3 separate regions of the Homo sapiens genome follow, and regions 1 and 2 are each linked to region 3. The links come from fine-mapping of genetic effects on gene expression. A gene starts in region 3. Each other region holds a variant in brackets. All regions are shown on one strand. Distances are between the middles of the regions.

The links.
Region 1: its variant is fine-mapped to the expression of SHC2 in thyroid (GTEx, PIP above 0.99).
Region 2: its variant is fine-mapped to the expression of SHC2 in whole blood (TOPMed, PIP above 0.99).

The regions. Positions count from the first base shown.
Region 1 is chr19:398,128-406,296 of GRCh38, forward strand. C2CD4C (C2 calcium dependent domain containing 4C) reads right to left here. Exons shown (of 2, transcript NM_001136263.2): 2 at 7,318-8,169. Among named protein-coding and RNA genes, the nearest start is that of C2CD4C, 6.9 kb to the right of the region's middle. RefSeq lists enhancers at 1-1,058, 8,003-8,169. The variant C/T (reference allele first, on the strand shown) is at 3,303.
Region 2 is chr19:291,390-299,548 of GRCh38, forward strand. It overlaps PLPP2 (phospholipid phosphatase 2), which reads right to left and starts at 14. Exons shown (of 6, transcript NM_003712.4): 1 at 1-14. RefSeq lists an enhancer at 2,608-3,457. The variant G/A (reference allele first, on the strand shown) is at 4,287.
Region 3 is chr19:456,806-464,970 of GRCh38, forward strand. SHC2 (SHC adaptor protein 2) reads right to left here and starts at 4,228. Exons shown (of 13, transcript NM_012435.3): 1 at 3,724-4,228. The coding sequence starts at 4,191. CIMAP1D (CIMAP1 family member D) reads right to left here. Exons shown (of 4, transcript NM_182577.3): 4 at 6,556-7,559. The coding sequence ends at 7,039.

The DNA.
Region 1 (8,169 bases), 59 kb before region 3:
CTCGGGCAGACCAGGGATGGTGCCCCTGCTCCATGACATCTGGGAGTCTGCTCTAAGACCAGGAGGCTGGGGCCCACCTGGGCTGCCAGCTGCACCTGCCTCCCTGGGCCACCTCCTTTTCATGGCCTGGGTTTGGAAGCTACCCACTGCCACTTTGTATTGCGCGGAGCAGTCTGGAGGGGACAGGCCCAGTGGCCACTGCTCCATGGGGTGAGTCTCAGCTCTGGAGAGCGCAGGGCCGGGAACATCATGTCAGGGACACCCTGGAGCTGTGGTATCCCCGACACGAGCATAAGGCACAGCAGCACTCAGTCCACATTTGCCAAAGGAAAGGGGAACAGCCAACACGCATGACCCCTCACCGCGTGCAGACGACGCGTGACCCCTCACCGCGTGCAGACGACACGTGTGACCCTCACCGCGTGCAGACGACACGTGTGACCCTCACCGCGTGCAGACGACACGTGAGACCCTCACCGCGTGCAGACGACACGTGAGACCCCTCACCATGTGCAGTCACCTTGCTAGGCAGCTTATGTGCCTTCTCTCGTTTCATCCTCAGGTTTGGGAAAATTATCCAGAACTTGGAAAGGGGTAAAAACATCACTGCCTGCTCTTTGGATCCTGGACCCTCGGCACGGTGGGCCTCAGAGCTGATCATTCCCTGGGGTGGGGCCGTCCTGGGCACTGCTGGGTGCTGAGCAGTGTCCCTGGCCTCCGCCCACTCCACACCAGGAGCTCCCCTAGTCGTGACAACCACAGAAGCCCCAGACGTTGCCCCGTGTCCCCGAGGGGCCGAATCACCCAGAGGATCAGTTGTATTCCAGAGCCTCGACCAGCCCGGCCACCCGGGGGTCACTTTGTGGACGCTTCCCTCCACTCTTGCCAGTGTCCTGGCTCTGGGGTTGGACGCTGCTTGGGATTGACAAATGCGGATGAGTTTTGTCCCTGAGCGGCAGGTGCCTCCTTCCTCCTGCTGCGTATAAAACTCAGTCCAGTCCTGCCGTTCCTTAGTAAACACTCGGACGCACCTTTGACCTACAGTGGCCCGTGGTCTGAATGAGGTTTATGCGTGAGTGCTTTGAAAGCTCAATGTTGCCATCACCTGAAGCCTAGAGGGCAGTGTGCACTGGGCACCTCACTTACACAGGAGGAAACTGAGGCTCAGAGAGGGGGAGGGGCTGGCAGTGTGGGAGCTGCAGTCCTTGATCTGAGCTGTCCCCGTGACTTTGGGAGATGAGGAAGGAGCATTCTGTGGCTTGGCTGGGGGAGCCCAGGTGGGAGGGGAGGGTGGGGACACAGTGGCTGGTGGGCGGGGGGGTGCCTCTGAGCCGCCTGGGCCACAGGCAAAGGGGTTAGGGAGGTGAGAGGGGAGCTTGGGGGCAAGGGTCATGTGTCTCCACGGCCGGGCAGGTGCACACTCCCAGGGAGGCCACGAGGACTCTGTGGCCCGGGGATTGGAGTGAACCACGCTGAAAGGTCAGAGGGCAGTGTCCCAACAACAGTGCCCCCGTTCCAGCCCCAACGGCAGCCCAGGGGTTCCCAGGCCCACCCTCACTCTTGCAGGGGTCCCCAGGCCCACCCTCACTCTTCCAGGGTTCCCAGGCCCACCCTCACTCTTCCAGGGTTCCCAGGCCCACTCTCACTCTTCCAGGGTTCCCAGGCCCACCCTCACTCTTCCAGGGGTCCCCAGGCCCACCCTCACTCTTCCAGGGGTTCCCAGGCCCACCCTCACTCTTGCAGGGGTTCCCAGGCCCACCCTCACTCTTCCAGGGGTCCCCAGGCCCACCCTCACTCTTCCAGGGGTCCCCAGGCCCACCCTCACTCTTCCAGGGGTCCCCAGGCCCACCCTCACTCTTCCAGGGTTCCCAGGCCCACCCTCACTCTTCCAGGGTTCCCAGGCCCACCCTCACTCTTCCAGGGTTCCCAGGCCCACCCTCACTCTTCCAGGGTTCCCAGGCCCACCCTCACTCTTCCAGGGTTCCCAGGCCCACCCTCACTCTTCCAGGGTTCCCAGGCCCACCCTCACTCTTCCAGGGGTCCCCAGGCCCACCCTCACTCTTCCAGGGGTTCCCAGGCCCACCCTCACTCTTGCAGGGGTTCCCAGGCCCACCCTCACTCTTCCAGGGGTCCCCAGGCCCACCCTCACTCTTCCAGGGGTCCCCAGGCCCACCCTCACTCTTCCAGGGGTCCCCAGGCCCACCCTCACTCTTCCAGGGTTCCCAGGCCCACCCTCACTCTTCCAGGGTTCCCAGGCCCACCCTCACTCTTCCAGGGGTCCCCAGGCCCACCCTCACTCTTCCAGGGGTTCCCAGGCCCACCCTCACTCTTGCAGGGGTTCCCAGGCCCACCCTCACTCTTCCAGGGGTCCCCAGGCCCACCCTCACTCTTCCAGGGGTCCCCAGGCCCACCCTCACTCTTCCAGGGGTCCCCAGGCCCACCCTCACTCTTCCAGGGTTCCCAGGCCCACCCTCACTCTTCCAGGGTTCCCAGGCCCACCCTCACTCTTCCAGGGTTCCCAGGCCCACCCTCACTCTTGCAGGGGTTCCCAGGCCCACCCTCACTCTTGCAGGGGTTCCCAGGCCCACCCTCACTCTTCCAGGGTTCCCAGGCCCACCCTCACTCTTCCAGGGGTCCCCAGGCCCACCCTCACTCTTCCAGGGGTCCCCAGGCCCACCCTCACTCTTCCAGCGGTTCCCAGGCCCACCCTCACTCTTCCAGGGTTCCCAGGCCCACCCTCACTCTTCCAGGGTTCCCAGGCCCACCCTCACTCTTCCAGGGGTCCCCAGGCCCACCCTCACTCTTCCAGGGGTTCCCAGGCTCACCCTCACTCTTCCAGGGGTTCCCAGGCTCACCCTCACGCTTGATGATTTGCGAGGACGCACGGAACTCCCAGCAAGCTGTCCTCGTCACAGGTAGGGTTTGTCACAGTGCCGGGGTGCAGGTGCCGTGGGCTGGGGAAGAGCACATGAGGCAGCGTCCCGGAGAAGCCCCGTGGTCCTGTCCGGGGAAGCCGGGAACTGCTCACTCACAGGGCGCACGGACCACCAGGAAAGGGCACGGCAGCCTAGGCGCCCAGAGCTCTGCGAGGGATCCCTCGTGGGGGCTTGATTGACTGATTGCTTGCCACGGGGTTGCCCTCGAACTCCAAGGGTGTCTGACGCTGTGAGACCCAAGGCGCTCCCAAGTCCCACGGTTGGTCTTGCTGGTGTGACCCTCCCTACCCCAGACCAAGACGCTCCCCTCAGGCAGGGCAGAAATCACCTCCCAAAGCCAAGGCAAAGCCCAGACCTCACCCCGCA[C/T]GAGAGGATTCCTCACCCCACGGGGGAAGGTGCGGGTCTCATCCGTGGCACCGCAGCAGGGCTCAGCCGGTGACCAGGACTGGGTGCCACGGGTGCTGGGTCCGTGCCCACTCCAGCCCCACCAGCAGGCAGGGAGGGTACAGGGTGCTGCAGAGGAAACCGAGTCACAGAGAACGGAGGGACTTGTCAGGATTCTGACCCATGGCTGGCAGAGCACAGCTCCCTGGGGCCCTCTCTGCCAGATGGCAGGGGCCGGCCATGCAAGCAGGTGTCCAGTCCCACCCAGGAAGGGCAGCGTGGGTCCAGCCCTGGTCCGAATTCCTGTCCTGTCAGCTGGGAGGTGTGCGCAGGCCCCTTTGCCTTCTGTGCCTCGGTGTTTCCATCTGTGGATGGCAGTAGGCAGCGTCTTGCTGAGGATTCAGCGGGTCCTCCCGCCCACCCACCCACGATGCGCTTAATCAACAGGCCCTGCCCTGCGTGTGACCCTGGAGAGAGGCTCTGGGACCACGTCACTGTACAGTAGGGTAAACTGAGGCTCAGGCGCCGGCCCGCGGGAATGGCCCGCCCTCGTGGGAGGAGCATGTGTGCGGGTCGGCGTCCGCCTCCTCCTTTTTATTGAAGTCATTTTTCTCCTCCTGTCAGCGGAACTGGCCGTGGGCAGCCCCTCCCTCCCACCCCCAGGAGCTGAGAAGAAAACAAAAGCTTAATCGAATCCGGCACTGGGGCGGTGGGTGCCGCAGAGAGAGGCCGAGGGAGCCCCCGCCTGGGTGGGTCTGAGGCCGCCTGTAATTATGGCCCTGATGTGATTATATTAATTATCGTCGCTATTTTGTGCCGGCTTCCGCCCGGCGAGCCTGTGGATTGAGCTCTACTGCACACAAGCCGCCAGGGCTCATCACAGACAGAGCCTTCGGCCTCGGGAGCCTGAGACCCAGAGAAGCCACGCACTGCCCCGGGCCACACCCCACGTGGAAGGTGGGGCTTGAAACTCACCCTGCGGCTCCCCACACACGTCAGGGTTAGAGGTTCAAGGCCCCAGAGAGGACAGGCCGCAAGGCAGGGGCCCTGGGAAGGTGTTACTCCTCCTCCTCGGATGGGAGAGACCCACTGGATCAGTGTTCTGTCACCTTAAAAAATGAATCAGCCGGACGTGGTGGCTGACGCCTGTAATCCCAGCACTTTGGGAGGCCGAGGCAGGCGTATCACCTGAGGTCAGGAATTTGAGACGAGCCTGGCCAACTTGGTGAAACCCCGTCTCTACTAAAAATACAAAAAACTAGCTGGGTGTGGTGGCGGGCGCCTGTAATCTCAGCTATTTGGGAGGCTGGGGCAGGAGAATCGCTTGAACCCTGGAAGAAGAGGCTACAGTGAGCCGAGACTGCACCTCTGTACTCCAGCCTGGGCGACACAGCAAGACTCCGTCTCCAAAAAACAAACAAACAAAACAAAACAAAAAAACTGAAACAAGCCGGCTTGAGCAAACAAGGCACTTTACCGGCCCACCCTCTGAGCTGAAATGGTGCGCAGTTATGGACTTCAGGCATAGCTGGATCCAGGTGTCCGCAATGTCTCCAGGCTTCTGACTCTTCATCTGTTGTTCCCTATGATGGCTCCCCTCTGAAGAAGGGGCATCTTTTTGTAATTTGCACCAAACGGGGTGCCCCCCGCTTGTGGTGCCCATGGCCTTCCTGAGGGTCGGGAGACTCAGGATGGCCGCCAGTCTGAAAGGAGAGACTGCTGGCAGGTGTGCCTGCCTCCTTCACCGCACAGCACCCACTGGGGCCGAGCGCTCTGTGGCGCCAGGGATGCTGGAGGTGCAAACAGTAGATTCGTTCTGCTCAGGATCAACATCACAAGGCAGCAAACGGCCACAGCCAGGAGGGAACAAGGGCATCTGACTCCCCCGGGGTGGGGGCTGACCTGAAGGGCAGTGGGCCAAGACCTGAGGCAGGGCGAGACACCACGCAGGCGCAGAATCCCTGGATGACGCCCACTTGGAAGTGGAGGGGGGAGGGCATGGGCAGCTGCAGCTCCCAGACACCAGCACACACAAACGCACACACAAGTGCACACCAGCAGCGACACAGGCACACACAAGCGCACACAGGGTCACACATGCATACACGGCTCACGTGCTTACACGTGCACACGCCAGCACACAGGCAGCTATACTCGAGTGCCTGCAGGCGCTCACCTGGCACTGTCACATACGCCCAACAGATGAGCACGGTAACGGCACACGCAGTCACACTGCACACACATGCGGAAGCACATGGCGACGTGTGTGCACCTACCTGGCACGCACACGCACACACCCGTGCAGCCTAGCGATGAGTGGCTGGGGCTGAAGAGGCTACAAGGCGCCCGTAGCCCTGTCAACCCGTCCCAGGCCCTGACTGGGGCTCACCAGGCCGCGGTCAGGAGGCCGGGCTACGCTGAACCCCAATTCCCAAAAGCTCCTGGTGGATTTGAGATGGCAGAGACATCTGGACCCCATGGGCAGCAGGAGAGACAGAGCAGCCCAGCCTGGGCTGAGAGCACAGGGACGGGTCCTGCCCCGAGGGGTGTGAGGGGGGGACGGGGTCCTGCCCTGAGGGGTGTGGGGGGGACGGGGTCCTGCCCTGAGGGGTGTGGGGGGGACGGGGTCCTGCCCCGAGGGGTCTGAGGGGGGGACGGGGTCCTGCCCTGAGGGGTGTGGGGGGGACGGGGTCCTGCCCTGAGGGGTGTGGGGGGGACGGGGTCCTGCCCTGAGGGGTGTGGGGGGGGGACGGGGTCCTGCCCTGAGGGGTGTGGGGGGGACGGGGTCCTGCCCTGAGGGGTGTGGGGGGGACGGGTCCTGTCCTGAGGGGTCTGAGGGGGGGACGGGGTCCTGCCCTGAGGGGGTGTGGGGGGGACGGGGTCCTGCCCTGAGGGGTGTGGGGGGGGGACGGGGTCCTGCCCTGAGGGGTCTGAGGGGGGGACGGGGTCCTGCCCTGAGGGGTGTGGGGGGGACGGGGTCCTGCCCTGAGGGGTGTGGGGGGGGGACGGGGTCCTGCCCTGAGGGGTGTGGGGGGGGCACGGGGTCCTGCCCTGAGGGGTGTGGGGGGGACGGGGTCCTGCCCTGAGGGGTGTGGGGGGGACGGGGTCCTGCCCTGAGGGGTGTGGGGGGGACGGGGTCCTGCCCTGAGGGGTCTGAGGGGGAGACGGGTCCTGCCCTGAGGGGTGTGGAGGGGGGATGGGGTCCTGCCCTGAGGGGTCTGAGGGGGGGACGGGTCCTGCCCCGAGGGGTGTGGAGGGGGGAACGGGGTCCTGCCCTGAGGGGTGTGGGGGGAACGGGGTCCTGCCCTGAGGGGTGTGGAGGGGGGATGGGGTCCTGCCCTGAGGGGTGTGGAGGGGGGACGGGGTCCTGCCCTGAGGGGTGTGAGGGGGGGACGGGGTCCTGCCCTGAGGGGTGTGAGGGGGGGACGGGGTCCTGTCCCGAGGGGTGTGGGGGGGGGACGGGGTCCTGCCCTGAGGGGTGTGGGGGGAACGGGGTCCTGCCCTGAGGGGTGTGGGGGGAACGGGGTCCTGCCCTGAGGGGTGTGGAGGGGGGATGGGGTCCTGCCCTGAGGGGTGTGAGGGGAACGGGGTCCTGCCCTGAGGGGTGTGGGGGGAACGGGGTCCTGCCCTGAGGGGTGTGAGGGGGATACGGGGCTGTGTCTAGAGGGGGTCTGTGGAGACAGGGTCCTGTCTGAAGGTTCTGAGGGGAGGCGGGACCCACCCTGTAGGGACCGTGTGGGGTCCGAGTCCTGTTTCCTGACATCCATGTAGTCAAGAGCTGGAACCGTGAAGCAGAACCCAGACCTGCCGCTCCAAGGGAGGTGGTTTATCAGGGGCTGGGCTCCTGCCCCCGCCTGCCTCCACCCGGGGCAGGAGAATGCGGAGGGCAGTGGAAAGGACCTTGCCAATCTGGAATCCTCTTCTCCTTCCTCCCTGGAGTTCACCGCAGAACTCTCTCGTTATTAAACAGCCAGGGAAGCCAACCTCCACCCCCGTATTCCCGAAACACCTTTATTGCACTATAAACAGCATTTATAAACAAACACAGCTGGGGAGTGTCTTAAAGATTTACCCACAGTCAACCTCAGACACTAAGATATCAAAGAGTGCAGGGGGGCTACTAAACGGGGGACCCCAGGGAGAACAGGGCCTGGGAGGGGTGAGCATCAGAGAAGGCGGGGAGCGCCGGCGTCTCTCTCCATGCAGGGCACCCTCCCCGCCTCCCCGGCCTGAGGAGCCTCCGCCCTGGGTGCCCTGGCTTCCGGGAGAGAGCGGAGCCCTGCAACACCAGGCTCAGAAGGGGCCTGCACTCTCCCTCTGGAGGGCTCACAGGTGTGTCCCACCGGACGTGCAGCAGGGGCCCAGCTGCTCCTCCAGTCCTGGGAAGCAGCTCCTCCACCCTCCCCTGGACAAGAGGAACAATGTGTGGCAAACGGGCTGACAAGGGACGTCCCTGGGTACCACAGATGTGCCCTGGTTCCTCCGTGCCCACCAGCAGCCGGGAGAGGCGAAGGCACTGGCCTGGCCTGGCCCCTGCTTTGAGTCTTATCATTTCTGCATCATTCTGAGCTGGAAACCTCCCCAAAATCATTCAAGGACCCACATAACCACACAATGGAAGCCTTGCAGCCACCTAACAGCAGGAAAGGCCATAGCCAGGTCCCCCCAGCTGCCTCCTGGGCTCCGACCCACCCACCGTAGCCACAGCCTATTTACACACGTGGCGTCAAAGCCACGGCCGTCAATCACTGCGTGTCGCTCCCAGCTGCAGACGCTGGACAAAAGGGCGACGGGGTGGCAGCCCCCAGCGAGGACGGATGGGCCATAGGGCTGCTCTCTGGGCATCTCT
Region 2 (8,159 bases), 170 kb before region 3:
GGCCGCGGAGTCACGTGGCGCGGAGCCCGCCCCGCGCGGAGAGGAGGGGAGGGGCGGGAAGGGGAGGAGGGGAGGGGCGGGGAGGGCACGAGGGGAGAGGTGAGGAGGGGAGGGGAGGGGAGGAGGGAGGGTTAGGGGCGGGGAGGGGAGGAGGGAGGGGGAGGGGAGGAGGGGAGGGCTAGGGGCGGGGAGGGGAGGGGGGAGGGGGAGGGAAGGGAAGAAGGGGGGGAGGGGAGGAGGGAGGGGGGACGGCAGCGGCGGGCAGGGGAGCAGCGGGGGGGGCGGGGCGCGGCGGACCCGGGACCGCGCGGACTCTGCCCCCGCCTGGCCGCGGCGCCCAAAAGAGCGGGTGGGGCGAGCGTGCGGGCGCCACGGGGACCTCGTCCGCCCGGAGTCCCGGCCCTGACCCGGGCTGTGCGGGTCTCCGAGCGGCGTGAGGTCCTCAGAGGCTGGAGGTTCCCCGCGGGTCGGGCCGGCGGAGCCCCGGGCGGGGACGTGGAGAAGGAGGACGAGCAGCGGCGGGACCGGCCCCGCGGGACGGTTCCCGACTTTCCTCCTCAGGGAGTGGCAGCCGCGCCGTGTGCGCCTGGAAACTCCGACAGCAGGAGGCACCTTAAAGTGGAAGGGGCGACGTGGCTTCATTTCAGGAGTTTCTTTTCTCCTAATACTCAAAATCCTGGCGCGTCCTTGGACCCCTGGCACGTTAGAAGCTCGAGTTCCTCGGCACCCACCTTGCGACGGCGTAGGGTGTCCAGGCGCAGCCCTGTGCCCAGGCACCGTTCCTATCAGCGCACTTGCTGTCCCATTTCACAGAAGAGCACGGGGGCGCCAGGAGCTGGGAACCCCATGAAATGGCGCCGGGGTCTGTGCCCCCACCAGGTCGTGGGGAGCCCTGAGCTGAGGGTGCCTGGGGATTGAGGGCACCTGAGCCAGGGAAACCCAGGCCCAAGGGACCCACACTGGGTCCTTTCGGCTGGGACCATCCGGGAGGCCTCAGGAGTGTCAGACCCACGTTTCCGGAGTCCAGCCTTGACCTCTGCCACTCACGGTCACTTAAATGGGAAGTGGCAGGCCTGGGGTCAGAAACAAGGCTGCTGGGCCCCAGATCCGCTGCCACCCTGACCCTCCTCTAAAACCCGTTCAGCACCACCATCAGCCCCCTGCCCCAGCAACACCAAAACAGGGTGCGTCTCAGCAACTGGACTTCAACTGGGAGCTCCTCGACCCTGCTTCCCGGATGGTCAGACACCTGCACGTGGGGCAGGGGGGCATCATGAGGGAACTCCAAGGGCAAGGGGCTCTTGGGAGACAGCAAAGGCACCCAGAGTGGTGCTGGGTGGGAAGACGGTGCAAGCTGACCTGTGGCCCTCCAAGGGCAGGGTTGAGGTGCTCCCTTGCTGCACTCACGGTGGGGTGGGGGGGCTCTAGCTCCCGTCGGAATTAGGATTGTGAGGGTTCTGGTGCCTAGCATCAATGCTACATAAATGTAGGGTTCAGCGTCACTACTGCGCTTTCCCCCACACTTCACCCTGTCTGCAAATGAGTGACCACTGCTGTCAGTGTAGTCTTGACAGCCAACGCACATTTTCTCCTAAGATGGAGAGGGTGCAACATCTACTGGAGTCAAGGAAAGGCGGTGTTCTTCATTGAGCACCTACTGTGTGCTGGGGAGCAAGGGAGAGGTCACTTGGAGGGGCCTGCCAAAGTGGGAGCGGGGGGAAGACAGTGGGGGCTGTGGGATGGGGCCAAGCCAAGAGGGAGAGACCCAGGAGAGGGGTGGAGGTAGACCTGGGAGGATAGAGGGTGGAGGTGAGGCTGCAGGCTGTTCCCCCTTCCATCCTTCCCCTTGGGTCAGGATTTGGGTTAGCCCTTAAAATCCCTGGGCAGGATAAGGATTAAAATCTGGTGGGGAAAGCAAGAATTAGGATTAGGGTCAGGATTGGGGTCGTCTCCTACATATGCTGACTGCAGCCCACCACACTTCAAGGAACTTCTTGTCACGGCTTTCATAGCTGGATCTGCTGCTGCCCCCAGCTGCCTGGTCCTCCCTTCCAGGAAGAACCTGAGGCCAGGGCAGCTCCCAGCAGGGACAGAGCCTGGCCTGGAGGCCAGGCCTCAGTGGCTTTCTCCTTCACCTGCAAATAGCAGAGCTGGAAGCGGGTGGTGGTACATGTACCCAGGCTGGGTCCCCTAGAGACAAGCAACCCCTGAGGGCCAGGTCGCCACTCCCAGGCAAGCAAGCTCACGGGTTCAGCAACTGCAGCTCCCGCCTCTTGCCCAGCACTGGCTCTGCCACCTTGGTGCCTCATCGCAACCTGGATGGCTCCGGGCCTGTTTCCAAATGGACTCTATGGAGACTAAGACACCTGTGAAGTGGGCAGAAGGGGGCCTGGCACACAGTAGGTGCCACCTAAGTGCAGCCAGCCACTATACCTGCCGTTGCTTTCTCTGCTTCTCTGGGACTTGAGAGGTGAAGTACCTTGCCCAGAGTCAAAACGGGAGTTGTCTCCCAGGTTCCTGGCACGGGGCTCTTGGAGTCGAACGAGTGCCCGTCAGTGGGTTTGACGTGCAGGCAGTGGGCAGGGAAGGCTGAGGGGGTGGATGGTTTGGAAAGACATCTAAGGTATCCCTCAGTCTCTGTCTGCATAAAGGCGGCAAGACAGTAGCTACCACCTGGGATTGTAGAGAAGATTAAATAGTTTGTGAAATGCTTGACCCAGGGCCAAACATTAGGAAACATCATTTGAGGGTTAATTGAACAAAATACAGTGTGGGTAGGTATCACGTGTTTGCTGGGTCAAGATGTAGAAGGTACTTCTTCCTGGGGTCAAGATTTAAAAGGGTTGGAAACCGCTGCCTTCAAATTCACAATCCAGGACCCACGAATTCAAAATTCCCCTCGGACTTTGCAATCCTTGGAGTGCCTCTTAATTTAGTGTAACCTTACAGTCAGTCAGGGACAGGGTAACCCTCCGGGTTTCAGCACCGCGAGTCTGCTGTGCTCTGTCTGTGAGGAGGTCTTCACTGGGTCACAGCAAAGAAAAACACACAGCAGTAGTGCTGGACGTGGTCGCCAGAGCCCCTCGCGCAGACAAGCCGGGACGCGGCCCCCCTGCCAGAGCCCCTCGTGCAGACAACCCGGAACGCACAGCCCCTCCCACCATCTCAGTCTGTGCGTTCGTTCACTGTCCCCGTCTCCTCCCACGAGCTCCAGGAAAGTGGGAGCTGGCACACAGTGGGTGCGCAAGCCGTGCTTACTGGGATGCCCAGAGCCTGAGGTCACCAGGGAGCTGACAGCTGCAGGGAGCTCTCCCTGGGTCACAGCAAGGCAAGACACACAAGCAACAGCGGAGGGCAACAGTGCGTTCTCAAAGGGAGAGCTGGTTTCCGCCTGCTTCTCGTACAAAACGAGGGGCAGAGATGGCAGGGGCCACCCCGCGAAACACTCGATTAAATCCCCGTTCACAAACCTTCCTGATGCCTGGCAGCCCTATCCCTGCCCCCGAAACCAGCATCTGGTGAAGGCAAGGAGAGGCACCTGGAAGACCTCAAATCTTTGCAGGTCTGCAAAGCCACTGAGCACCCACAGACCCCAAGGACCTGGTTCCGACTCAAGGAAGAACAAGGACGGTGGTGGCGGAGGGGCTCCAGAGAACTCGTAATGCCTCTGGTGAGGCCACCGCCGTCCTGCATCTCTTGATGTGACTGGTGACAGCCCACCAGGGCGGGGAACCGGTTCACCTCCCAAGTGCTCACCGGGGGCCGCGCTTTCGACTCTCCCTGCACAGGCCGTGGGTCGTGGCTCCGGGTGAGTGGAAACATTTGCCCCGCAGCGACCACCGCCCCTCCCTCCCCGACCTCGAGCCACAGGACCAGGGGACGGGGCTGGGCTGCGCTCTGGGCCCCGCGATGCCTCCGGGAGGCACGGCCGCCCTCTGCTGGACACGCCGAGGAGGCGCTCCACGCCAGGGTCTCAACATCCTCCTGAGAACAGCCCAGCAATGGGGCAAATAAACATCAAGGACCCCCTAGCTGAGTCCTGATACCTGTGAAACAAACAGGACACCCCGTTACATTTGAATCCCAGAAGAGCAACAAACCGGTTTTCAGTATGTGTCCCGAATACTGCATGGGACATACTTACACATTCGTTTATCTGTAATCCGAGCCCAACTGGGCATCCTGTATTTTATCTGGCCATCCTACCCAGGAACTACAAACCGAGAAAACAAGGACCATCAGGGAGAGAGAAACAGCTGGGTCAGGTCAGTGGGGGCCCAGACAGC[G/A]CCAGTCCAGGGCCCGGACATCTTCAACAAAGCCTGGGCCTGGGAGGCTGAGGCTCTGGGGACCGTGGCCGGTCCAGGACCATCAGTTCTGAGCGACTTTCTCCCTCCCCCACTTCCACCCCCACAGAAATTGTCTCAGGAGGGCTGATCTCCAGGCAGGCCCCTGGCTAACGCCTGCTTCCTGGCACGGCCATGGACTCTGTCCAGAACAGATTTCCATATTTGGTTAGCAGGTAGGAAGGAGGTCATCAAAGACCTTCACTTCACTGTAAAAGGAAAGCATTAAATAAACGAACACAAATGACTTTTATTTATGGCTGCCGAAAAGCTGAGGACAGTAAGTTTGTTCTAGAGAGGTATGAGCTCCCCTGAGGTTAGTCAAGACCAAGTCTGGTGGAGGCCTCATTAGTCCTAGGAGCCTGGTGTCAGACAAATCCGGAAGAGCCCCAAGGCACAGCGGGCCCTCCAGGTCCTCCTGCCTGGGTCTGGGCTGCAGGAAGGGCAGGATTCCACCACCCCACAGCTAACCCAGAGGCAAAGCTACGCTACACAAGCGGTGAGCAGGCCAGCCCAGCTCCTCGAGACCAGCACATCAACCCAGCTGCTGACAGGAGAGGGGCAAGCCCTTCCTGAGGCAAAACAGTATCCCCTCTGCTCCTTAACTGTCTTACCCACATCTAGTGCACCCTCAGAAACACAAGACACCATGGACAAGAACAGAATATTAGTCAACAATGGCATCCCAGGGTCTCTCCCAGCTCCAACCTATCTTAGATATTCCAGTCAAATCCAATCTCCCTAAAGCGTGACTCTACTTCAGCTAAAAAACACACTAAGGCTCCCCACTGCCTTCCCAGTTTCAGATTTCTTGGCCTAAGAGGGAAGTTGTTCCTGCACTGCCCTCCTGACCTCTGTGCTCACCCCACACAAATGGGACGCTCATGCCTCTGGGTGGCTGCGCCCGGCCTGCCCATGTGCTCCTCCCTCTTACTATTCCTTCTCCATGGGGCCTGCCCTGCTACCGAAGGGGAACAAGGGACCCTGGCCTGGCCAACCAGGAAACCCCTTCTGCTCGGCAGTTCCTGATTCAGTTATGGGCACGAGACCCAAGAACAAATTTTACCCAGGAGTTTTGTTAGAACAGTTGGGCAAGATACAGGCTTCCCACAGAAATCACAGATGTAAGGTTGTGTGCCTGGAGCTTCTGGTGCCATCTCAGTCGCCACAAAGGGCGCTGCCCCTGAGAAGAAGGTCAGTTCGGGCAGCAGAGAAATAGAAGCACCGAAACATCATAATGTGGATGGTGACTCCTGATTCCTGTTTCTGGAGGCCCTGGCATCCCCGGACTGGGTCTTAAGAGTATAACTTTCGGGCTGGGCACAGCGGCTCACGCCTGTCATCCCAGCACTTTGGGAGGCCGAGGAGGGCAGATCACAAGGTCAAGAGTTTGAGACCAGCCTGGCCAACATGGTGAAAGCCCGTCTCTACTAAGAATACAAAAATTAGCCGGGCGTGGCAGCGTGTGCGGTGTGGTGGTGTGCGCCTGTAATCCCAGCTACTCCGGAGGCTGAGGCAGGAGAATCACTTAAACCTGGGAGGCAGGGGTTGCAGTGAACTGAGATCACACCACTGCACTCCAGCCTGGGCAACAAAGCGAGACGCCGTCTCAAAAAAAAAAAGAAAAAGAAAAGGAAAAAAAGGGCTGGGCTCAGTGGCTCACGCCTGTAATCCCAGCACTTTGGGAGGCCGAGGCGGGTGGATCACCTGAGGTCAGGAGTTCAAGACCATCCTGGCAAACATGGTGAAACCTCGTCTCTACTAAAAATACAAAAACTAGCCGGGCATGGTGGTGGGTGCCTGTAGTCCCAGCTACTCGGGAGGCTGAGGCAGGACAATATCACTTGAACCTGGGAAGTGGCAGTTGCTGTGCGCCGAGTTCACGCCGCTGCACTCCAGCCTGGGCGATAGAGCGAGACCTCGTCTCAAAAAAAAAAAAAAAAAAAAAAAAGCAAAGCAATAGGATGACAATGATTTAAAGTAACTATTATTAAAAGGTTAAAGATTACAGAAGAAAAGATAGGGGCAAGGTGAGAAAATGGAGAATTTCAGCAGAAAAATTAAAAACACATAAGAGCACCTATTAAAATATACAATATGGGAAATAAAAATTTTGTGAAACAGACTAAATAGAAATCTGGAATATCAGAAAAGAGGATTGGTAGCATCAAAGACATGTCGATAGAAATTATTCAGAGGCCGGGCACACTGGCTCACGCCTGTAATCCCAGTACTTTGGGAGGCCGAGGCAGGTGGCTCACGAGGTCAGGAATTCAAGACCAGCCTGGCCAATATGGTGAAACCCCGTGTCTACTAAAAATAAAACAAAAATTAGCCGGGTGTGGTGGCGCACACCTATAATCCCAGCTACTGGGAAGGCTGAGGCAGGAGAATCGCTTGAACCCAGGAGATGGAGGTTGCAGTGAGCCGACATCATCGACATCATGCCACTGCACTCCAGCCTGGGTGACAGAGCAAGACTCCGTCTCCCAAAAAAAAAAAAAAAAAAAAGAAATTATTCAAACAGAAGCACAGAGAGAGAGAAAAATAAAAGAGAGAGCTGTGAGGCAACACCGAGGGTTGTAACATTAGTGACTGGAGAGACTGTGGGTCACCCATGGCCATGACACCAGTGACTGGAGAGACTGTGGGACACCCATGGCCGTGACACCAGTGACTGGAGGGACTGTGGGTCACCCATGGTCGTGACACCAGTGACTGGCGAGACTGTGGGACACCCAGGGCCGTGACACCAGTGACTGGAGGGACTGTGGGACACCCATGGCCGTGACACCAGTGACTGGAGGGACTGTGGGACACCCATGGCCGTGACACCAGTGACTGGCGAGACTGTGGGACACCCAGGGCCGTGACACCAGTGACTGGAGAGACTGTGGGTCACCCAGGGCCGTGACACCAGTGACTGGAGGGACTGTGGGACACCCATGGCAGTGACACCAGTGACTGGAGGGACTGTGGGTCACCCATGGCCGTGACACCAGTGACTGGAGAGACTGTGGGTCACCCATGGCCGTGACACCAGTGACAGTGACTGTGGGACACCCATGGCCGTGACACCAGTGACTGGAGGGACTGTGGGACACCCATGGCCGTGACACCAGTGACAGTGACTGTGGGTCACCCAGGGCCGTGACACCAGTGACTGGAGGGACTGTGGGACACCCAGGGCCGTGACACCAGTGACTGGAGAGACTGTGGGTCACCCATGGCCGTGACACCAGTGACAGTGACTGTGGGACACCCATGGCCGTGACACCAGTGACTGGAGGGACTGTGGGACACCCATGGCCGTGACACCAGTGACTGGAGGGACTGTGGGTCACCCAGGGCCGTGACACCAGTGACTGGAGGGACTGTGGGACACCCAGGGCCGTGACACCAGTGACTGGAGGGACTGTGGGTCACCCAGGGCCGTGACACCAGTGACTGGAGGGACTGTGGGACACCCATGGCCGTGACACCAGTGACTGGAGGGACTGTGGGACACCCATGGCCGTGACACCAGTGACTGGAGGGACTGTGGGTCACCCAGGGCCGTGACACCAGTGACTGGAGAGACTGTGGGACACCCATGGCCGTGACACCAGTGACTGGAGGGACTGTGGGTCACCCAGGGCCGTGACACCAGTGACTGGAGAGACTGTGGGACACCCATGGCCGTGACACCAGTGACTGGAGGGACTGTGGGTCACCCATGGCCGTGACACCAGTGACTGGAGGGACTGTGGGACACCCATGGCCGTGACACCAGTGACTGGAGAGACTGTGGGTCACCCATGGCCGTGACACCAGTGA
Region 3 (8,165 bases):
GGCCTTTGCACCTGCTGTGCCCCTGCCTGGAACTCTGTCTGCAATCCCCACCACGTGGGGCCTTTGCACCTGCTGTGCCCCTGCCTAGAACTCTGTCTGTAAACCCACTGCGTGGGGCCTTTGCACCTGCTGTGCCCCGCCCCTAGAACTCTGTCTGTAAACTCCACAGTCAGGCCTTTGCACCTGCAGCTGCTGTGCCCCGCCTAGAACTCTGTCTGTAAACCCACCGCGTGGGGCCTTTGCACCTGCTGTGCCCCGCCTAGAACTCTGTCTGCAAACCCCACCACATCAGGCCTTTGCACCTGCACCTGCTGTGCCCCGACTAGAACTCTGTCTGCAAACCCCACCACATCAGGCCTTTGCACCAGCACCTGCTGTGCCCCGACTAGAACTCTGTCTGCAAACCCCACCACATCAGGCCTTTGCACCTGCACCTGCTGTGCCCCGACTAGAACTCTGTCTGCAAACCCCACCACATCAGGCCTTTGCACCTGCACCTGCTGTACCCCCCCTAGATCTCTGTCTGCAAACCCACCATATCAGGCCTTTGCACCTGCACCTGCTGTGCCCCGTCTAGAACTATGTCTGCAAACCCCACGGCCGGGGTTTCCATGGCTCAGGTCTCAGCTTCAAGGTCGCCTCCTGGGAGGGGCAGCCGCCCAGCCTCCTGCTCTAATATCACACGATTTTAGCTCTGCAGAGCCGCTACCAGAACCTATTTCCTCATCTGTTTGTCCTCTTCTGATTGACTGTCTCTCCTACTGGAATCCAAGCTCCTTGAGAGCAGGAACGAGGTCTCTCATTGTCTACTCATCATCTGTGCCGGGCAGGGGAAGCGTATGCTAAATATTTCCTGCAGTGACGGAAAGCAGCAGTTATCCCCCAACATCCGGAGCCCCAACAACCCTGGCGTCTGAATTCTGAACATTCTAAATCCCACATCCACGGCCAATGGCCACACCTGACTGGTCCCAATGGATGTGGTGTGAAGGAAGCGCACGCGTCCTCCGTGGAACACGCCGGCCGTCGGCGTTAAACTTGTAGGACAAACCGCCGGGAGACGGCGAGGGCGGCCCGATGCCACCAGGGAAAACAGACCCAACCAGGCCTGGCATCCGCACAGACCCGGGGGAGGCGGAAGTGGGTCCCGGGGAGGCGGAAGCGGGTCCTGGGGAGGCGGAAGCCGGTCCCGGGGAGGCAGAAGAGGGTCTTGGGGAGGCGGAAGTAGGTTCCGGGGAGGCGGAAGCGGGTCTTGGGGAGGCGGAAGCGGGTCTTGGGGAGGCGGAAGTGGGTCCCGGGGAGGCAGAAGCGGGTCTTGGGGAGGCGGAAGTGGGTTCCGGGGAGACGGAAGCGGGTTCCGGGGAGGCAGACGCATGTTCCGGGGGACGGGGAAGTGGGTTCCGGGGAGGCAGACGCGGGTTCCGGCGGAGGGGGAAGTGGGTTCCGGGGAGGCGGAAGCGGGTCTTGGGGAGGCGGAAGTGGGTCCCGGGGAGGCGGAAGCGGGTCTTGGGGAGGCGGAAGCGGGTTCCGGGGAGACAGAAGCGGGTTCCGGGGAGGCGGAAGCGGGTCCCGGGGAGGCGGAATCGGGTTCCGGGGAGGCGGAAGCGGGTCCTGGGGAGGCAGAAGCGGGTCTTGGGGAGGCGGAAGTGGGTTCCGGGGAGGCAGACGCATGTTCCGGGGGACGGGGAAGCAGGTTCCGGGGAGGCGGAAGCGGGTCCTGGGGAGGCGGATTCGGGTTCCGGGGAGGTGGAAGCGGGTCCTGGGGAGGCGGAAGCGGGTTCCGGGGGACGGGGAAGTGGGTTCCAGGGAGGCGGACGCGGGTTCCGGGGAGGCGGAAGCCGGTCTTGGGGAGGCGGAAGTGGGTTCCGGGGGAGGGGGAAGCGGGTTCCGGGGAGGCGGAAGCGGGTCTTGGGGAGGCGGAAGTGGGTTCCGGGGAGGCGGAAGCGGGTCCCGGGGAGGCGGAGGCGGGTTCCGGGGAGGCGGAAGCGGGTCCTGGGGAGGCGGAAGCGGGTCTTGGGGAGGCGGAAGAGGGTTCCGGGGAGGCGGAAGCGGGTCCTGGGGAGGCAGAAGCCGGTTGTACTGCGCAGGCCGAGCGCGCCTGGGGACCACACGTGGGGGAGTGAGGTTTCACAGCCAGCTTCTGGGGGCTCCCACAGGCTTTGGTGGGCCCGGGCTTGAGGCCCCCACCTCTGCCTGTCTCCTAACGGCCCGCTCCTCTGTGCATCTGAGTCTAAAGTTCCTTCTCCTTACAGAGACCCCTGATCCAGGTAGGCCTCATCTTGACTAGGTTACATCTGCAAGGACCCTGTTCCCAATATAAGGTAATAAGGTCAGACTCCTACGGCACAGGAATTGTAGGGGGACCCTTCTCAACTCGGTGTAGGGGGAAGGACCCCACTGAACCCAGCGTAGGGGGAAGGACCCCACTGAACCCAGCGTAGGGGGAAGGACCCCTCTCAACTCGGTGTAGGGGGAAGGACCCCACTGAAGCCAGCGTAGGGGGAAGGACCCCACTGAACCCAGCGTAGGGGGAAGGACCCCACTGAAGCCAGCGTAGGGGGAAGGACCCCACTGAAGCCAGCGTAGGGGGAAGGACCCCACTGAACCCAGCGTAGGGGGAAGGACCCCACTGAACCCAGCGTAGGGGGAAGGACCCCTCTCAACTCAGCGTAGGGGGAAGGACCCCACTGAACCCAGCGTAGGGGGAAGGACCCTTCTCAACTCAGTGTAGAGGGAAGGACCCTACTGAACTCAGCGTAGGGGGAAGGACCCCACTGAACTCAGCGTAGGGGGAAGGACCCCACTGAACTCAGTGTAAGGGGAAGGACCCTTCTCAACTCAGTGTAGAGGGAAGGACCCTACTGAACTCAGTGTCCAGAAAAGCAAAGACACAACCCAATGTGAACACAGGCTAATGTTCCTGGCCGCAGAGGCCGGGAGGAGCTGGGAGCACCCACCGGTAGTGGCGTGCGGGAGTGGCTGATCATTTTCCCAGACGCCGTAATGACTGCAGCTGTAGGACAGCTGCTCTCTCAGAAGACGGGGGACTATGCACGGCGCTGTCACCCCTGCAGGTGACTTCACACGGTTTACTATAAACCACAGAGAGGGGCAGACCCGTCAGCAGAGGGGAAGGTTACCCTCCTAGGTGGAGGCGTGCTGTGTCCAGGCGCCCGACTTCCCCGTGTGTTTGAAAAGGTTCATTTATCATAAGACCCAAGGTAAATAAACAAAGGCCGCTTCCTTGGCCGCCCTGGAAGTCCCTGCTGCCTCCCATCTGGAATCCTGGGGTCTGTCCGGGCGCCAGCCCCTTTCCAAACACCCCTTCCCGCACCCCCACCGCAGGCCAGCGTCTCGGGCCCCGTCTGTCATTCGTGAACAGCTGTCCGGGGGGCTCCGGTGGCAGAGACGCCCCGGCCGCTCGCCGCTCTCGGCCTCGCCCGCCCAGTCCGAGTGGGGGGCGGTGCACCTGCGCATGCGCGCCCCTCCCCCGCCGCCCTCTCCCCGCCCCTCCCCACGTGACGCCGTGGGAACCCGGACCCCAGCGCCTCCGGGTGGGGGCAGCCGCCGGCCGCCGGCCGGGGATGGGGGTCCGGGGTGGCGGGAGAGCAGGAAGGATGGGGAGGGGACACCTGGCTCGCGGGGTCCGGGGGTCCCGGAGGAGAGGGTGGGGGAGGGGAGGCCGCCGCGAACGGGCTCCCGGGGGGGGTGGGGGGGACTCACCCGCACGACGTAGGAGACCCCGGGCCCCAGGACCCTGGCGTCGGGGTGTAGCCAGCCGTGCGCGGGTTTGTGGATGAAGCTGCCCTTCCGGATCCACTCGGCGGCGGCGGCGGCGTCCCCGGACCCCGCCGCCCCCCGCCCGCCCCGCGACCCCCGCGACCCCGCGCCCCGACAGCGGCTGAGCGCGGGCAGGGGACAGGGCGCGGCGCAGCGGGGCTCGCAGGCGCCCAGGACGGCGGCCGCCAGCGCCGGGACGCCCCCCGGGCCCGCCGGCTCGGGTTGGGGGTCCGCGCCCCCCGAGGCCCCAGCCGCCCGCGCCGCCGCCGGGCCGCGGCCCAGGAAGCCGCCCGGGGCCGCGAACTTCCACTGCGGCATTCGGGGCAGCAACGCGCAGAAGGTGGTGGGCGCCTCGGGCTCGGGGGGCGCGGGGGGCGCCGGGGGCGCGCGCCCGCCCGGACCCTGCGTCATGGCCGCGGCCGCCCGACGGAGCCCGACCGGGCGCTGCGCCTGGCGCGGAGGAAGCCCTCCCGCTCCGCCCGCTCCCTCCCGCCCCCCGGCCCGGTGATGTCATCCGCCCGGCCCAGCGCGCAGCCGCGGGGGGCTGCGCCCCTGGGACCCCGGCCCTCCTCGTCCCGGAGCCTGGCCGCGAGGCTGGGGAAACTGAGGCCCTCCGAGGACACCGGGCGCTGGCCTGGAACCCGCAGCCAAGGCGGGACGGGGCTTTGAACCCAGAACCCCGTCAGCGACCCTCCCCGCTGCGCCCCCCACCCCCGCCCGCCGCCCAAGTTCGCAGAAGGACCGAGCTGGAGAAGCTTAGAAATTCCACATCCCTTCTTTCCCCTATTTCCTAGTGGGGAAACTGAGGCCCCGGGAGGCGCGGCCAGGGAAAAGAGAACCCCAGACCCTAAGGTCAGCCCCTCCCTCTCCGTTGTTGCAGCTAGAAGGTACCTTAGGGTCACCCCTATTTCTTAGTGGGGAAACTGAGGCGCGGGGAGGGGAAGGGGCGCGGCCGAGGGCTCACAGACGAAGCTCAAACCCAGGAGTGCCGGCTCGGGGGTGGGGGGGGGGGGCGGGGCTAGGAGCGGAGCCGGGCCCCTGCTCTGCGGCCTGTCCCGGCCTCAGTTTCTCCGGCTGTAACTCAGGGGAGCGGGCTGGAGGGTCGCGGCCCTTCTTCCCTCACTTCTGGGGAGCCCAGTCCCGCACCAGCTCATCTGAGCTCTGGGCCTCAGCCTCCCAGGCCGGTCGCTCCATCCCCAGCCTCAACCTCTCCGAGACCGGCCGCACCTTCCCTGGCCTCAAGGGTCGGTTCCTTCTGCACCAGAAAACGGGGTGTCACTGTCACCCCGGGACCCAGCCTCCTGGCCCGACTTGGCTGGAGCTCCCCTGCACCTGCCCCGCCCCAAGCAGGGCTGATTGCCGGGAACAAAGGGAGGGGCCGGGACGCGCTGGCAGGTGGGGAGGGAGGGAGGGGCGAGGCTGCCCGGAGCCCGATCGATAATTCAGGGGATGAGATCACAGCCGGCGCCGCCCGCGGGGCCGGGGAGGTGGGGGAGGGGAGCGAGGCGCGCGGTCGCGATCGGCCGTCTCTGCCGCGGCGCGTGTCGGACTCAGCCCCTGCGCGTCCGCGGGAGGAGCAGATCGTGGGCGCGATTGGTCGGGCTGGAGCCGCGGCTGGACCTGCGCGCGGTGTGTGTGTTGTGCGCAGGGTGTACGCTGTGTCTGGGTGCGTGTCCAGGCATATGCAGGGGATCCAGGCTGCTGGGTCCTGGGGTGTGTTCACCTAATGGGTAAAGGGTGGGACAGGTTTGGCGGCCCTAGGCTGAGGGCTGTGGGCTGAGGAGAGAGCAGCCCCACCACCCCCTCTCTGCGCCCTGCATGCCTCCCAGGCTGCATCCCTCAGGGAGGTCCCGGGGCAGTGTCGCACCCTCCCAAGCTCCGGGATTAGGGTCTTTCTGGATGGGAGGTTTGTAAGGTGGTCCAGGTGCCATCCCTCCCTGGCACACAGAGGGCTCAGTCACACGGCACCCCCGGTGTGTTTCCTTCCTGTCCCTTGGAGACAGTGGCAGGAACTCAGTCCAACATCCAGAGTTCAAATCCTGACATCAGACTGAGGTGGGGGCTCACAGCATGCCCCAGGACAAATGTCCAGTCTCTCCAAAGCACCATTTCCTCTCAGTAGATGCCCCTGGTCCTGAGTTGCTATGAAGCCTAGATGATCTTTATTAATATCCAAAACATAGCAAGCAGCTACTGATGGCAGATATTAGAATACCTCAAGCTCCTATACATCCTTCAAAACCCAGCTTCAATATTGCCTCTTCCAGGAAGCCTACCTGGCTGCCTGCTCAAAAGCTTGGCTCCACCTCCGGCCTCCCCTCGCCCTGGGTCTCTCTTCTGGTCTCTCAGACCCCCTGGCCACTGGAGGGCTACGGGTCTGGCTCTGGAGGGCGGCGTTCGGGTCTCTTTTCTGTGACATCAATAGACACGTTAAGGCCGGGCTCGGTGGCTCATGCCTGTAATCCCAGCACTTTGGGAGGCCAAGGCAGGAGGATCACAAGGTCAGAAGATCGAGACCATCCTGGCTAACATGGTGAAACCCCATCTCTACTAAAAATACAAAAAATTAGCCAGGCGTGGTGGCGGGCGCCTGTAGTCCCAGCTACTCGGGAGGCTGAGGCAGGAGAATGGCGTGAACCCGGGAGGCGGAGCTTGCAGTGAGCCGAGATCGCGCCACTGCACTTCAGTCTGGGCGGGAGTGCGAGACTCCGTCTCAAAAAAAAAAAAAAAAAAAAGACACATTAAATGAGTAAGCACATGTGATGCTGACAGCTCTCCAGCCCAGGAAAGGTTTATTGGCTAAGCAACTGTAGAAGGTGGAGTGGGAAAGGCACAGGCCTCGGGGCTGCCTCCAGCCTGAGTTTGGGCTGGGACCGGGGCTAACCCAAGCTGTGATGGGGATCCAGGCCCTAGTGGAGCTGGACGCCGAGTTCTGGGACACAGGAAGCTCCATCTCCAGCCAGCTACTGGGGAGGGCCGGAAGGTGTCCCTTTCCCCACCTGGCCTGGCCTGGCCTGGCGTGACCTGGAAGAAACTGGGGCACTGGAAGGAGACTCACCCTGCACCCTGCACAGGGCCATGGGTCACAGCCCCCAGGGACTGGAAGGATCAGGTGTCCTAGAAGGACCTGGACAGTTCAGGAAAGGGGAGGGAAGACTCCTTTCCCAGCCCCTCTCGCCTTCTAGCCCCTCCAGCCAAAGCCAGGCCCCAGGAGAGGCCCGCCAGCCCCCCGTTCACTGTGTGGGAAACAGGCCTGGCCTAGCAGCAGCGGCCGGGCAGCCTGTGCCCCGCAGGCCGGGAGGGCGTGGTGGCGGCCATGGTGCTGGCCCGTTTCGAGTGGCGGATGCCCATAGAGAACGCTGGAGCCCTGGCTTTGTTCACGGTGACCTGCTCTGGGCAGTGGGCGCCAGGGCCGGGGGTCTCCTCCAGGGGTCGCGGGGCCCGGGGCCGCCCCAGCATGGTGAAGGCAGGCAGGCGCTGGCGGTAGGTGTTTGCGTCCGGGCTGTCGTACTGGCCCGGGCCTGGTATCTCAGCAGGATCCTGCGGGGGGCGGGCGGGGGGGGTGCGGCCCACCACCGTGTAGCTGGGGCTGCTGGGCTTGGTGAAGATCTGTGAGCCCCACAGAGGGGGCATGGTGTAGGCATTAGGGGCAGGGGCTGAGGTGTCCAGGGGCTTCAGGGGGAGGCGGCAGCCCAGGGTGAAAGCCGGCGGTGTCCGATGGCGCACAGGGGGCACCTTCTCTGGGCTGTAGGCCCCAGGGCCTGGCGTCACCTCCGGACCTGAGAGAGTGGGGAAGGAAAGGTGGCACTGATGTCCTCACCTGCCCAGAGACCCGGCCTGGCTCCCCATGGCCCACATGCACCCTGGAGCTTACAACGCTTCTCAAGCAGCCTGGGTGCCTTTCTCTCCCTTCCCCATCCTCCATACACATGGTCTGTGTTTCAAGCCTCCAGGACTTTGCCCAAGCTGGACCCAGGGCCAAGCACGCCTTCATTTTCCACCCCTCCTCCCTGCTGCCTTCCCCAGCCCATCCAGGGTAGAGCCCTCACAGCCCTTCCAGAGCCCCACAGCCTGGGTTTTCCCCTCTCTCCAGACGTGAGCACACTGAGGTGGGATGGTCTGCACCTGCATCTAACTGCCCCACCAGACTGGGATCCCATAAAAAGGAAGGCATGTCAAATTTACTCCAACTCTCCAGCAGTTGACTGTCTGAGTTGATGGGTGAACAGGATAGGTAGGAGGTGAGTGGTTGAGCGGGGAGTGAATGGTTCATGAAGGGATTTGTAAATGGATGGATGAGTGGATGATGGATGGATGGATGGATGGATGGATGGATGGATGGATGGAACGGTTGATAGGTAGAAGGAAAAAAGGAAGGATTCATA